Linked DNA regions of Homo sapiens: region 1 is linked to region 2. The links come from fine-mapping of genetic effects on gene expression. A gene starts in region 2. The other region holds a variant in brackets. All regions are shown on one strand. Distances are between the middles of the regions.

Evidence for each region.
Region 1: its variant is fine-mapped to the expression of MGAM in whole blood (TOPMed, PIP above 0.99).

The regions. Positions count from the first base shown.
Region 1 is chr7:142,102,368-142,110,694 of GRCh38, forward strand. It overlaps MGAM (maltase-glucoamylase), which reads left to right. Exons shown (of 71, transcript NM_001365693.1): 69 at 263-312; 70 at 902-1,072; 71 at 3,447-4,380. The coding sequence ends at 3,524. Among named protein-coding and RNA genes, the nearest start is that of MGAM2, 5.2 kb to the right of the region's middle. The variant T/G (reference allele first, on the strand shown) is at 3,094.
Region 2 is chr7:141,991,803-142,000,145 of GRCh38, forward strand. MGAM (maltase-glucoamylase) reads left to right here and starts at 4,077. Exons shown (of 71, transcript NM_001365693.1): 1 at 4,077-4,128. RefSeq lists an enhancer at 3,775-4,276.

The DNA of each region.
Region 1 (8,327 bases), 110 kb after region 2:
TGACTCTGTCAGACAGATGTGTCTATACACATTCATTTCAAGCATTTTGTGTAAACTGAGTGTGGGTGCAGGGTTTGATTAGTCTCCATAAAGAGCACTTACATTTTAAAATAGAACACTCAAAAGACAGAAATAAAAACAAAGATAAGCCTTACTCTCTCAAACAAGACAAGTAGGCAATTAGAACAGCATTTATATATTCTATAGCATAGAGTTCTACAGCACAGGTCCAGGCCATGTTTATCTTGTTTTTTGTTTGCAGATACCTATGGGAAAGGACTCTATTACTTGGCCAGCTTTTCTGCCAGCCAGGTGAGTGTGATTGATATGAAGTGAGAATAGGGTTCCACTGGCTTAGGAGGGTGCTGAATATCGTAAGGGCATAAAATACCACCTAGAATTTCTTCATTGCTCATCTTGCTAATTCACATTCTTCTACTTCTCTAGACTTCCGGTGGAAATTTACTATGCTCCCAGGAGGCTTTCTGCAATTAAACCTATCCACATCTCATCAGTAATGATCATTATTCTAGTTTACCATGTTACAGGTGGACGGGCAGTTTCTGTTATCTAGCCCTTGTTCCTGAGTTGCCTTGGAATGGTCTGCACATTTTGGGATTCCTCCACCTGTAGAATATAAGTATCTTAACAGCTGAGACTTTTTGTCTCCTGTAGAGTTCAGGGCAGTGCGAAAGACCCTGTAGCTGCTTGTCAATGCAAAGTGGATGGGAGTTGGCAATAGGCCATAGAGTGATGAAATCATGATTTCCATGATCCAAAGTTACAAGATGGTGACTCTGAAGTTGTCTTACTTTATGACCTACATTTGTGCCTAAAAAGAGGTTAGAAAAATTTGAACTAATTCTGCTATTATATTTTTCTTTTATCTCCAATTCAACAGAATACGATGCAAAGCCATATAATTTTCAACAATTACATCACTGGTACAAATCCTTTGAAACTGGGCTACATTGAAATCTGGGGAGTGGGCAGTGTCCCCGTTACCAGTGTCAGCATCTCTGTGAGTGGCATGGTCATAACACCCTCCTTCAACAATGACCCCACGACACAGGTTTGTGACCAGCAAAAAGTGCGAATGGTATTCTCCACCCTTAATATGCCTAGTGCAGTGCCTGACTGCTTCCCTTCCAAATGATGCCCTCTCCTGCCAGGCCCTCCGGGAATCCCTGAGTTTTCCATGTGTTAGGAATGGACCACGTGGAGATGAATGAAAAATCATGGTTTATCATCATTTGGAATCCATGGCCTGGATTCTTACTTTCCATGTTTGTCTTCTTGTCTGCAAACCTATGTAAAACTTTGTCTTGACTCCCTCACCTCTGCCTCAGAGATCAACTTCCCAAACAGGTTGGAACTATCATATTTTATCAAATATGATACCATCAGTGAAAATTGCTTCATTATTTCATGTGCCACAAAGAAAGAAAAAAGGATGACAAAACTATGATAGAATGCTTCCTTATCACTCAATTTTTTTTTTTTTTTTGAGACGGAGTCTCACTCTGTTGCCCAGGCTGGAGTGCAGTGGCATGTGATCTCAGCTCACTGCAAGCTCTGCCTCCCAGGTTCATGCCATTCTTCTGCCTCCCAAGTAGCTGTGACTGCAGGCGTCTGCCACTATGCCCGGCTAATTTTTTGTATTTTTAGTAGAGACAGGTTTTCACTGTGTTAGCCAGGATGGTCTCGATCTCCTGACCCTGTGATCCGCCTGCCTTGGCCTCCCAAAGTGCTGAGATTACAGGCGTGAGCCACTGTGCCCAGCCTCAGATTTTTATAATAAACTTATAGAAAGTTTTTGAAACTTCTTTAGCCATAAAGTTTTACCTATATATTTCAATATTGTAAGTGATAATATGGAGGAAAATGTTGAGTGGAGATACATTGATGATTCTGCCTCAACGTAATTTAAAAGAGGTAGACCCTAAATGTGAAGAAGCACTAGAAATAGCTTAACCAACTTGTATCGTATTTAAATTGTACTATTTAAATTCATATTAAACTGTTTTATTATTTAGTTTATTGTATTTATTATTATTTAGAAGAAAAATATGTGTTACAAATTGGTTAAGATATTTCCTCTGTACTGCAAAAGGTGTTGGTGATTCAGCATTTTATAAAAATTCTTCCACTAGTGTCTATGAAGTTTTTTTCCTGAGCCACTAACACACTTTATATACATTTTCATCCTAGTGCTTTCTTGATCTTACTAAATATTCCTTCCTGTAATAATCCTTAAATGTTTTCAGCCCATCCATTCATAACACAGTAATAGCAATGAAGCTTACACAGGCACAGACAATAACAATTATGCCATGAGTGCTGCTTGGCTCACAGTAATTCTATGGTTGTCGATTACAAGACACGCTCTTGTCAGATGAATGTTAAATATGTGAAAAATCTGTACCTTGGGATTAATGCTGTGTAGTGGTCCTGACACTTATCATCCCGATGGTAAATGAAACTTTCTTCCTTGTGTGCTTACTTATTATTTTTTTTCCTGAACTTTTTTCTTTCATAATCCTTCCTGATGATTAAGCCTGAAACAAAAGTTTTCTTTCAGTTTTGCATTCTTTACAGTTATTTCCTCATACTTGTGGTTTTCTTGTCAACAACTTCCCCAACTATACCATAAAGGACTTTGCCCAATCCTGTTGCTGACCAGCTCAGGGACAGACATGCAAGCTGATGAGGGCACATGCAGTGAAAGCTTCTTGACAGCATCTGCCTAGGAAGAAGCAGGAATAGTGGACTCTTGCTGGGCAAACACTGGGGTGCTATAGTGGAATAGGAGAAGGAGGAAACAGAAGGATGGTGCCAAGGAAAATCAACACCTCAGTAGAATGGAAAAGAGGGCATTCTCTCCAGTTTGTGCAGTTGTTTCTCTTCAGCGGTTGCATATTGAACATTTTTTTTTTTTTTGACTGAGTCTCACTCTGTTGCCTAGGCTGAAGTACACTGGTGCAATCTTAGCTCACTGCAGTCTCCGCCTCCCAAGTTCAAGTGATTCTCCTGGCTTAGCCTCCCTAGTAGCTGGGATTACAGGCACCTGCCACCACGCCTGGCTAATTTTTG[T/G]ATTTTTATTAGAGCTGGGGTTTCACCATGTTGGCCAGGCTGGTCTCAAACTCCTGACCTCAAATGATCCACCCACCTGGGCCTCCCGGAGTGTTGGGATTACCGGCGTGAGCCACCGCACCCGGCCCATATTGAATTATTTAAAGGCCCATCTCTACCACTGAATAATCTTTGTACTCTAAAAAATTAGAAAACACCCTTCTCATCTGAAACTTTGAAGGCAGTCTTTTAACTAGACAATACAATGTAGAAGTATTAGGGGGTTATTTGGACTGGATACTTGCACCTGATTTATTTGCATGCAGGAAATTTCAACACCGGATGCCCAATTCTTTTCCTTTGGTTCCTAACAGGTATTAAGCATCGATGTGACTGACAGAAACATCAGCCTACATAATTTTACTTCATTGACGTGGATAAGCACTCTGTGAATTTTTACAGCAAGATTCTAACTAACTATGAATGACTTTGAAACTACTTATACTTCATACTCATAAAAATTATTGTGTGTTGCTAATTTGTTCATACCCACTATTGGTGAAATATTTCTGTTAATTTTGTTATATGTTTTTTGTGTGAACCCTAAAGGTTAAACCTTAGCCCTGTGGGATAGGCAGTTAGGGAGGTGTGGAAAATCTATGCATTACCTTAATGTCTCTGTGTGGTTAGTATGGTAGTGACTGTTCATCATATGACATTTACTGAAGATGAACTGGGTCCATGATGAAGTGTGTGTATGTCCACGTTTGTAATCATAGAATGGACCCCATTCTTTTGTTAAATACACAAGAGAAAGCTTTCTGTGACAGTTCCAGGTCTTGAAGCTAATCAGCATCTCAAGAAAGTATCCAGAAAGAACATCTGCTAGTTGGTTATAGGCGGTGGGAGGAATAATATACCTAATTGGTTATAGGTGGGGGGAGCATGATAAGCAAAGAAAAGGCAAACACAAGGAAAGATCAGATGAAACAGAAGATGATAGTAAAAGTGATCCTAAGTAAGAACATAATGTAAAATTGTCAGCAGCCTCATGGGGAGGAAAAAGGAAGAGTCAACTCACTTGAAGAAGAGGGTCTTGAGAAATCCTTAGCATAAAGGGCTACTGGTGAGATTGAGATCTGAGCAGGCAAAGCTCAAAAGAGAGTTTGGAGGTTAAAAATAATTTATTTTTGCAGTAGTGTGCTTTGAAATGTGTAAATCTTATTTCTAATGTATACAACCACATTTCACATAAAAATATGCAATTTATATGCCAGATAAAAATAAAACAAGTGAATTTGCAAGTGATTTTGAATTTTGTGCTATTTTGACCATGAGTAATCTCTGTTTGGGGTTAAGGTTCTTGTTTAGCAAACTCTTATGAATTTGTCTTTCTGGTTCTCTTCGGCATCACAGAACCTACAGCCAAATCCACCAATAGGATGATAACCTTTATAATTATCCTTTTTCTTACATCTCTGCAAGGAGTCTTTTATAAGATGTGGGTTTGTGGAAGGGTCTATTGATTACTATTTTAATCATCATAGCAGTTGCTATATTTAGGAAAATACCAACTCCAGTAAAAATAGGAGTTGCAACCTTCTTGCTTAAAATTCTATAGGGTTAAAATGTGAGATAAGGAAATTATATATTAATGTTCAACAGGAATATTAACTTTTGATGTTACCTGAAAATGAGTTGAAAATGAATGTGTGTGGAATGAATGAACCTACTTCTCTGTGTTTTCTTCTTTTCTTATAACCAGGAAGCCATTCATTCTCCCTGCACACTCATGTGTCAGCACCTGCATAAGGCTAGAGACAAACAATATTGTTAAATCATCTAATTATCACAATACGGGGCATTTGGATGAGGGCCTGAGCTAACTAGGAAACTGGTGAAATATGGAAAAGCAGCCATGGGAATCCTTTGATCAAAAAGGTGGGAAACTTGTCAGCTTTCCTCTAACAAACTCAGGAAGGCCACAAAGATGAAAACGTTATTTACTTGATATTTAAAAAATATTTAATGTTACCATCAAGGATATGTTGGTGGAATTTGGCTCTGGCTGCCACAGAATGCTTAAGGAGAGGCATTCTGACTATATAATTCTGATGGCTAAGGCCCTAGTGAGGCCAGTGGGGTTTTGGAGCACACGAAGTGTCAGGGACCCCACTGACAGCCTAGTGAAACCTACGGAATTCTTCCTCACAACATTGTTTTTAAATGCATCAAGCAAAATGCATGCTATTTCAAAGAAAACTTATCATATTACGATACACTTATCCAAATATTAAAGATGATATAGTAACCCATGAGATGTGTTTTTTTCATTATCAAATTAAATGAAAAGATCCAACAGTGGAAGTAACAATGCTATAATTTCAATGTAATGATCAACATCAACAATATTTTGAGATATCCACTACAATTTCATAATGTAATATGGAAAGATCTGTGATTGCATTATTGACAAACTCATGTGCTATGAAAACTACTGTGTTTTGTTGTCTACATTCATAACCTAACAAAATGCTAAATTTCAGCCAGAAATGTGTGAAAAAGAGATTATCTGTTGGAACCAATATGGCTTACCGGAGTTAACGCAGAAAGAGCTTGCTGACGTCACAGCCTGAATTTCCACCACAGGTTCTTACTAACTCCCTCCCAAATTTGCACATGAGACCCATGATGAGGCATGAAGAGATAACTGTGCATGCCTGAGGACTTTCTAGATTTCCTCTTTCTTTTACCAATCACCTGCTAATCCCAGAATCCACCCCCTAAGTCTTTTCTGATAAAAATACTTCCTTAAAGCCAGCACAGGAAGACAGGTTTGAGCTGGACTCCTGTGTCCTGTGAGTCGACTTTGCAATAAAAGCTTTTCTTCGAAACCCTTTATCAGAGTATTGGCTTCTAGCGCATCGAAGAGTGAGCCCTTTCGCTCAATAATACCCCCAGAGGTTGTTCCTCAGATCACAGTCTGAGAACCACCTCTCATGGAACCATATCCATTTGTGGCCATCCCAGAGCAGCCCCTACAACATGGACCTATGCTTACAACTCCTGGCCAGCTATTCAGGAAGAGGCTGGGGGCCTTCCTTTTCCACATATGCTCTGTTTTTTAGATCACATAATTTTGCTTTCTTCATAGGTGTGCCAAAATAAAAAAAAAAACACTCTCAAACTCTTTCACTTAAATAGGAAGACATCTATTCCTTTCTTATTAATGTTATAACATTAAATGTCATATATACCTGCAAAGATAAGGTTATGTTGGCCGTGGCAGATGTCTTCAAGATCTCATCAATATTTCTTTGTTCTTGTCATAGCGGCAGAGTCACTGAGAGTTTTGCATCTGGCCTTGGAGAAAGGTGTTCTGGAAGTTAAGGGTGACTCATATTACTAGTTTCTGATCTGATGATTCCAACCAGCAGCTTGCTGTGACAACTGTTTGAGTTCCGCCAATAGCTAACTTTGCCGTGCCTTGTTACCGATAGACAACTGGAAGATGTCGGGTCACGTGCCTGTCTCTACCCTTCAAAGTGGCTCTGTTATTTTCTCATTGGTCAACACCAGTATGGTGATTCAATATCTTCCAGTTACTAGTTAGCAAGAATGGAAGGTGAAGGTAGCTATTTTCTGCACTTTAGGAAACAGGTTATAGATTAGCTGGGCCTGTTGGTTACCACTATTAACATAAATGAAGTCACAAATGTGCATGGCATGTGGGGAGTTAAAGGTAAAATATCACACAAAAAATAGATCTTATGTAACAATAAAATCTCCCTTCTTGACCTTTTGCCAGGATGTCTTCCCAATTTGAAATGAGATCTTGGTACATTTCCCCTCTAACAAAGGCCACCTTGTACTGGGGCAAATGAAAAGCTGAATATGTCATTCCAGCAGTTCATAAATGCAGAAACCGAGTCTCTCTTTCTCTCTCTCTCTCTCTGTCCCTCCCTCTCTCTCTCTCACTTTCTCTCTCTCTCTCCGTGTGTGTGTGTATGTGTGCTTTTCCACATACTGAGCATTTGAAGCAAACACAAAAGATTCACTACTGTGAACACTGTTATTTACAGTTCTTAGGTGCCACCAAAAGAGCTCTCTGTACCCTCATATATTACTGGCAGGAATGGGGGTGTAAAATGGTGCTGCCACATTAGAAAGCAGTTTTGCAGTTCTTCAAAAAGTTAAAGACTTGTCACATGACCCATGATTCCACTCCTAGGTATATTCCAGGCAGAATTTTAAAACGTGTCAGCTCATAGCAGCATCGTTCATAACAGGCAAAAAGTATCAACAACCTAGATGTATATCAGCTGATACATGCCTAAACAAAATGTGGTCTATCCACGCAGTGGATACTATCCAGACATGGAAAGGAACAGACACTGATACCTGAAATGGTGTGGATGAACTTTGAAAATATCATGCCAAGTAAAAGAAGCCAGACACAGATGGCCACATATTGTATTACTGCATTTATATGAAATGTTCACAATAGGCAAATCCATAAGGACAGAAAGTAGGTTAGTGGCTGCAGAAACAGGGGGAGATGGGAATGGGGAGTGACCACTAATTATTTTTGGGGGTGGCAAAAATGTTCTGGAATTAGATAGTGGTGATAGTTTCAGAATTTTGTAAATATATTTTTAAAAACACTGAATTGTATACTTTAAAAGAGTGAATCTTATGGTTTGGAAATTATATGTCAATTTAAAAATCCACTTTAGCTGGCTTAAGAAAAATTTTAAAAAGATATTGGTGACTCATTGAAACTCCGGTAGGACTAGAGAGTCAGGTTTGTAGGCCATGTGGCTAGGGACAAGCCCCAGGTTACCCTGTAGCGGTTTCTACTGCCACTGCCCTGAGCACATATCTGGCAGCTCGCAACCCCAAATACTGAGCATAGGATGCCACTAGGTCTCTTGTCCCTGCTGCCTCTGAAACGAGCTATGCTTCCAACATCCTGGATTTTACATGGTACCTCCTTATCTACACCTTCTTCTGGATGTAAGTCACTCACAGGAATATCTCATTCACAAAGCTCCAGCCACTTGCCTCTACCTTGGATGAAAGAAAGGCTGTGAAAGAGAATTTCTAGCTGTTTCTTTGGGGAGGCAGAATTTGGAGAAAAAGTCCTTAAGTTGATTTAAGTAAGAGGTTTTCTTTTTCTTTTTAAAGAAAGATCCTCCGTTTTTAAATTTTTTTCAACTTTTATTTTAGATTCAGGGTCTAAGATTCAGGGTGCA
Region 2 (8,343 bases):
ACATGCTTTTCTAATATCTCCAAGCCTAGATAAGGCCATGTCACCAGACAGCAAGCCACTCCAGGCACCACAATGATTATACCTTGGTCTGGCCTGAACCATGTTTTTAAATCCAGGGACTTGGAGCTAAGCCTTTAAACTGCTACAGTCAGGCAACATCATAGATGTTGTGCAGGGTAGGTGTTCAATAATTTTTCCTTTGTAAACATGAATGACTGCCTGCTATGTTCGGAATTCTGATTTGGGGTCGAATGAGAGATTGGCATATTTGAATGGGCCTTGGATTGGGGATTCAGGGTCTGAGCTCTTGTCACAACTGTGGCAGATGCAAACTGATCATATTAATTGTAACTGACACTTACTGAGTATTTACTAAGTAACATCAAGTCTTTTACTCACATTATTTTGTCTAGTTTATAAATTTATTGATAGGTAGTATTTTAATCTTCATTTAAGTTACAGAATCAGAGACTTAGTTGCTTAAGCTCCCCCAGTTAATAAGCAGACCTGGGCTTTGCAATTCAGGCCTGCCCTGTTCGGATCTGGAACTCTGAGTCACCACCCACACAAACCTCCTATTCCTGGGTCTCAATTTCCTCTTCTGTAAAATAAGGAGGCTATGCTTAGTGATTTTTAAAGTTCTTTAAGGGCGATACCAAACAACTCAAGTCACATGTCTTAGGAGCTTGATGGATGTGCATTTGGGTGGCAGTTTAGACATTTGCTGCCTTGGGGCCATTGTGAACATCAGTGAGATCATGTAGGTGAAGGTCTTGTTTTTATTTATTTATTTTTATTGAGGCAGGCTCTCACTCTGTTACCCAAGCTGGGCTGCAGTGACATGATCATAGCTCACTGCAGCCTTGACCCCCAGGCTCAGGTGATACTCCCACTTCAGCTTCCCAAGTAGCTGGGACTACAGGTGTGGACCACCACACTCAGCTGATTTTTTTTATTTTTTGTAGAGACATGTTCTCCTTATGTTGCCCAGGCTGGCCTTGAACTCCTGGGCTCAAGTGATCTTCTCGTCTTGGCCTCCCAAAGTGCTAGGATTACATGTATGAGCCACTGCTTCAGACCCAAGGTCTTGGCACTCGGCCAGCCTCCATGCATGCCAGTTTTCCTTTCTTTCCTCTTTTAGCTGTAAATTCTTTGATTCTATGATGCCAAAGAAACACGGTAAGTCAGTGTTACCACGGTGGTTGTTGTTCACTGATGGTTCATGAAATCAGAAAAGTAAGGATAAGGAAGTAAACTTTCAAAGAGATAAATTGATTCAATTTTGATTATCTGTCTATGTCTACTGTGAAACGACTGTGATAAGAGATAGTGATTTTTGTTTGTATTTTCCAGATGATATACATGGTTTATAAATTTAGGTCTCTTGGCCCAGATTTTTTTCTGAATTTTCACTAGCCCATAAAGACAAATGCCTAGAAATAGCAGTAGCTGAGCAGGACTTTTTAAACTATGTGTGGTAAAACAGCAATTGTTTTAAAATTGTCCAATATATCACAGACTGTGGCTTTTGTAAAATTAAAACTAAATTACTTGAAAAATAAATTTTAAAAAAGCATATACAGATACAAGCTCCATTTTTTAATTATCAAGATCAATGACATGAAATGATTCTGTCAAATTGTAATGCAAGTCTCTCAACACTTACCTTCAATTTCTGTGCTTATTTTTCTGGAAGCTGGCAACCACAGGTTCACAGATAACTCTTGGAGTATCACAGAGCGGGGAACTCTGCCCCACTTGGAGGAAGGTCCACTTAGTAACAGAGCAAAGTTCTTAACCTGGGGTTTGTAGATATAATTCTGAAAGCCTGTGAACTTGGAGGGGGAAAATATTTACATATCTTTTCTTTGCTAAATTCTAATTGAAATTTAGAGTTAGGCTGCAAACTACAGTGGTGTTAGTAGTACCTATGAATTTGGTTTCAAGAGAGGTCACAGTTACTTTCACATCATATATTTAAAACAATCTCAAGATATTGTTTACGCTTATCATGTTTTTGAAATTGCAATCGCTATTAGACATATCGCTTTATTGTTAGTATGTCATTAAAGAGGCACAAACTATAATTTAAAAAATATTATAGTAACTGTGTTTCAATGTAATTGATTTTCTTTGTATCTCAGCTCACTACAACCTCCGCCTCCTGGGTTCAAGTGATTCTCTTGCCGCAGCCTCATGAGTAGCTGGGATTACAGGCACGCACCGCCATGCCCGGCTAATTTTCGTACTTTTAGTAGAGACGCGGTTTCACCATGTTGGCCAGGCTGGTCTTGAACTCCTGGCCTCAGGTGATCTGTCCACCTCAGCCTCCCAAAGTGCTGGGATTACAGGCGTGAGCCACTGCACCTGGCCTAAGAATTAATTCTAAGAGGGGTTTATAAGCATGTCTCAGCTCCATAAGTTCTTCTTGCCCACTGCCCTCCAAAAAGATCAATGAGAACAGCAGGCATTGCAGTAAATAAAGAGTTGAATAATCACAGTGTTGGCCAAACAAGAGCAGGCAAAAACTTCTCAATCCCCTCTCCCTCAGGATTCAAAGGCTAAGGTTTGTAAAGGGTACTTTGGTGGGCATGGGGCTGGGGAACTTGTATAATTGATTGGCAGGGAATGAAATCACAGGAGCACCTAAAACTGTCTTTGTGCAACTGAGTCAGTTCCCAGGAGGGGTGTGTGTGTTGGCCTCAAGACTAGGTGGTGTCTGTTGGTCTACTGAAATGCTAACAAATATCTAAAAGACCAGTTATTTAGGTTTCACAATAGTGATTGATATGGTTAGGCTTTGTGTCAGAACCCAAATCTTATCTTGAATTGTAATCCCCATAATCCCCATGTGTCAAGGGAGGGACCAGGTGGGATGTGATTGGATCATGGGGGCGGATCCCCCTATGCTGTTCTCATGATAGTGGGTGAGTTCTCATGAGATCTGATGGTTTTGCAAAGCAGTTTTCCCTGCTCTTGCTCACTCTCTCTGGCCTGCCGCCATGTTAAGAAGTCCCTGCTTCCCCTTCCACCATGATTGTTTCCTGAGGCCTTCCCACCCTTGCGGAACTGAGTCAACGAAACCTCTTTTCTTTATAAATTACCCAGTCTCAGGCATGTCTTTATAGAAGTGTGAAAACAGACCAATACAGTGATGTTATCTTTGGTAGTTGGGGAAGTTATGAATTTTGTGACACTGGTTGTGTGACTGGGGCAGTAAGCAACTTATAGAAAAACAAACTAAGCCATGGCAGGACATTGTTTATGCCTATTCTTTAGCAAAGTCTAAGCCCCTACCATAATTCCAACCTTGCCTTATGAATGCGCCTTTAAGCTCCAGGCAAGGAGGGGGATCATTTTCCCTTGACTCCAAGTTTAACTATAAACTAAATCCCTCTCATAGGTTTCTTGGCCTTTGTACTAGAATAAGCAAAAAGCCAACCAAAAAAAAAAAAAATCCCCTAGAAAACATAATTTAGCCTGGGAGGTTAGAAGCAAGATGGAGTCAGTCTTGTTAGATTTCTCTTATTTATAGTTCTGCAAAGGCAGTTCAAGAGTCACCAGACTGTTAAAGGATTTCCATACTGCAAACAAGCTTAAGGACACCTTAAAGAAGAAAGAAGAAAACTATTTTTAAAACATTTTTAAAACAACTTCCTTCCATCACAATCATCAGATTGTGCTACTAAACGTCAGTGAGTTCCTGAGAGATTCGGAGTCAGTGCAAGAGACCAGGGCTCTTTTGGAATACTGGGGTCATTTATTTTTTGCTCTTTATCATCTACAAATTGTGTCTGTGTTCTCTTACCAGACATACAGGGTGTCCTCACCACCGATTAAACATTCAGTGCCTGGAGGGGATGGAGTGGGTCATGGGAGCTGGCTTTTCCTTCCAAAAGTCTTAAGGATGTCCTTCTTAGAGCAAGACCACGATTACTAATTAACTAAAAATTCTGATCCTGGAAATAAAAGCTGGCCATTCATTTGCATTTGAAAGCCATTAACATTTTCTTGATAGGTCGGTAAATAGTTACCAGATCTTTGGTTGCTTTGGTGGACTGTGCTCCTCTGCTTTTATTGCTAAGCCATCCTTCAGACAGAGAGGGAGCGGCTGCAAGAGGTAATGAGGTATGTTTGTGAACCTTGTATTCTTTTACGGTTACAGATGTGTGTCTACAAGTGTGTGTGAATTTGAGTTGATCTCTTTTAGTCAAAATGCCCTTGTTGGCCGGGTGCAGTGGCTCACACTTGTAATCCCAGCACTTTGGGAGGCCGAGGCGGGTGGATCACGAGATCAGGAGATCGAGACCATGGTGAAACCCCATCTCTACTAAAAAAATACAAAAAATTAGCCGGGCATGGTGGCGGGCGCCTGTAGTCCCAGCTACTCGGAGAGGCTAAGGCAGGAGAATGGCGTGAACCTGGGAGGTAGAGCTTGCAGTGAGCCGAGATCACGCCACTGCACTCCAGCCTGGGTCGTAGAGCGATACTCCGTCTCAAAAAAAAAAAAAAAGCCCTTGTTAATTTGTTAAACACAAAGATAAACAACACCAATAATAAATCAAAAATTATGCACATGCATACACATGGAACAAAATTCTCATTTATCTTTTTTTCTTAGTGTGTGTATATTTTTCTGAACTAAGGCTGGATCTATAAGCCTGATTGTAGTGAAACCTGTGTGTTTGTGTGTGTTTCTGTGTGAGGTGTGATGAATTATTTAATACTTAGGTTGAGGTAGCAGGCAGAAATTCTTTCAGATTCTGGAAATGAAGTGAGAGAAATGAATAAAAGGAGTTAGAATTTGGGAGTGAGATTAGAGCATTTTCCCTCTGAAAGGATTTGGAGTTGTGATTGAGAAAATGTAACTGAAGAACCAATTATAATCAGAAAATTGAGAAATATATCACTATGCTTATGGGTTTGGTGCCTCTGTTGATTAAATACAGAATAATTTTAGGGGATAGTCTGAGGATGTGTGTAAAATATTGGGATGCATTTATGAGTTGGTGTGCATTGGTGGGTAGGAGAGGTTTCCTGTGGAATGTGGGAGGAGGTCATAAAGAGAAAGGTAGGGTATCTGTCCTGGCAGTCATGTGTGGAGTAGAATGGGAGTGCTCGTGGGAAGAGGAGAAGGTGATAAATTGTTGTTGGCCCTTAAACTTAAAAACTTAAAATAAAATACTTAAAATAAACTTAAAATAAAACTTAAAATAAAACTTAAAAAAAGTTGGATCCTTACTAGTTGCCAGTCTAGCTAGACACACGCAGGCATTTCTTTTCTGACTGGTTACAGAGGTGGGAAGGGAGAGTTACTCTTGGGGAAAGAGAGAGAAATTGAGACTAATCCCCATGGGTCTCCCTGAAAAAGGATACCACTAGGTTCTTCATGCAGGATCTGATCAGTGGCTTTGCTGGGCGAGGAAGACCTCCCAATGTCCAAACTGTCTACAGTCTGTGTCCTGGTGTGGGACAGTAAGTGTATGTCTGTAGGTGTGCAAAGAGGGGGTGAGATGGAGGGGGTCTTTGGTTTGTTGTGCTGGTAGGTCCCTGTGCTACCAGGGACCAAATGAAGTGGGACACTAAATTTAAGACAGCTTGTTGCTATTTCAGTCACACTCTCACAAGATGCCAATGATTATTTTTTATTATCAGGCATTCCCTCACAAATACATTTTAATGAGCTAATAAAATTACTATAAAAATTGTTCTATAAGCATGGAATGGAACTAGAAAAGAAATTTTCCATTTAAAATTTGTTCAGGTGGCAGCTGTGGAATGTGATGAGAAATATAAGCCTTTGCACACCCTGTTGCTGGGCTCAAGGAGGAGTTAGCTGTCTCCTAGAGATGATCCTTTTGCAGTTCAGATGGGGAAACTGAGACCCAGAGGGGTTAAGTGGATTTTTCCAAGGTCATACAGCTGGCTAGGGTCAGAGCTGACTCTTAAATCTCTCACCTTGGGTGTGACCAGACTTGGAAGAAAAAAGCCATTCATTAGCTACCTTATCCCTTCCCATTCACCAAGCAGCTGGGAAAGGATGGCCCAACCTACTAATATCGCCCAGCATTTTTGATGAATAGCTATGGCTCACTGGGGTCCTCTTTGCAAGTTGTTCTTAGTCTATCTATCCACAATGAATCCTCTTTTCCACTAGATCTCATGTCTTGTGTTAGCAAAGGATTTTAAAAGAATGGCTTAGACCTCCATATACACATCAAACGCTGGCTATAATGCCGGAAAGAGGACAAATATCCAGTTTTTCCAAATTAATTTAGATAGCCATTTTAATAATTTGGGCCCCCATGTGGTTTGTCTACTTTGCCTAAAGAACTATAATGGTACCAGGACAATGAGCTTTGACAATTATTCATATACTAAATAATTCAAGAAGAAAAAAATTCTATTGCTTTTGCGTAATGTATATATAGTAATAATTCTTTTTTTAAATTTTACTTTAAGTTCTGGAATACATGTGCAGAATGTGCAGGTTCGTTACATGGGTATACATGCGCCATGGTGGTTTGCTGCACCTGTCAACCCATCATCTAGGTTTTAAGCCCCACATGCATTAGGTATTTGTCATAATTCTCTCCCTCCCCTAGCCCGCCATCCCCTGACAGGCCCTAATGTGTGATGTTCCCCTCCCCATGTCCATGTGTTCTCATTGTTCAACTTCCACTTATGAGTGAAAACATGTAGTGTTTGGTTTTCTGTTCCTGTGTTAGTTTGCTGAGAATGATGGCTTCCAGTTTCATCCATGTCCCTGCAAAGGACATGAACTCATCCTTTTTTATGACTGCATAGTATTTCATGGTGTATATGTGCCACATTTTGTTTATTCAGTCTATCATTGATGGGCATTTGGGTTGGTTCCAAGTCTTTGCTATTGTAAATAGTGCTGCAGTAAACATACGTGTGCGTGTGTCTTTATAGTAGAATGATTTATAATCCTTCGGGTACATACCCTGTAATGGGATTGCTGGGTCAAATGGTATTTCTAGTTCTAGATCCTTAAGGAATTGCCACGCTGTCTTCCACAATGCTTGAACTAATTTACACTCCCAACAGTGTAAAAGCGTTCATATGTATATAGTAATAATTCTTATATTTCAGTAAGATTATTTTCTGACCAACCTAATTAAAATTGCCACCCTTACCCCAACATTCCTCATTTACCCCCCACTTTTTCTCCATATACTTACACAGTATAACCCAGTGTATATTTATTTATTTTGTTTATTGTCTCTTTTTTCTATTCATGGGAACATAAGTCTCATGACGGCAGGGATTTTTATCTGTTTTGTTCATTGTTGTGTAGTCAGTTTTTGAAAGAATGCTTGGCACATTGTAGGAACTTAATAAATAATTCATGAATGAATAAATAAACTGCAAGCAGATTTCTTTCTTCCAGAGATGTAGTTTAGATAATGATGAATGATCTTGGCAAATGAGGCACATCAGTAGCTTCTTCTAGGTCTCCCAGATAATTTAAAACGTGCTATGGGCCATAAACTTAATGTGTTTTTATTTGATAAAACTATAATCTCACAGAAAGCCCAAGCTGGTGTACACTGTGGGGCATTATAGCATAGAATACAGAGTGATGGTTAAAAGCCATGGCTGTGGAGTCCAAAGGGCAGGTGTTCAAATTGTGGCTTTGCTCCTTATCAGCTGTATGATGACATCAGGCAGTTTATTTGACGTTTCTGAAGCTTAGTTTTTTCATCTGAAAGTGAGGATAGTAGCCATGATTAACTTGCAGTCGTTATAAAAATGGCATGTGACAAATTATGGAAACCTCTTAGGATATCTGCTCAATCACTGTTAACCATTATTATCATTAGCATTAAAATTGCATAGTTATATATTTGTCCTATAAAAAAATAGTCAAAGATTAAGGACAGATTGCCAAGTAGCAGTTTTTTAAAAAACATTTTTAAAAGCCCTTAACCCTATTTAAATTATTTCCTTTTTTATTTGCGTCTTGCCATTTTTCCTGATCTTAGTTTTTCTTCAATTGCATTTCTAATTGAGATAGGAAGCTTCACCATCAAGAGTTCTATAATGCAGGAAGTAAGGTCAATCAGATAATGCTGGAGTTTTTTTTAAGGTTTAAGGAAATCTTTCTCTTGTATAGCTAGAAAATAGATATTATTGTTCCATAGAGCAAGTAACCATATTTGAAAATATGGAGCAAAAGGACTATTAATAAACAGCAAACATGTTTTTAAAAATATGCTAATGATATTTTATTAAAAAGTCATATTTACCTATGCATATTGGTTATCTATTGCAGGGTAACAAATTACCTTACAATTTTGTAGTTTAAAACAACAAACA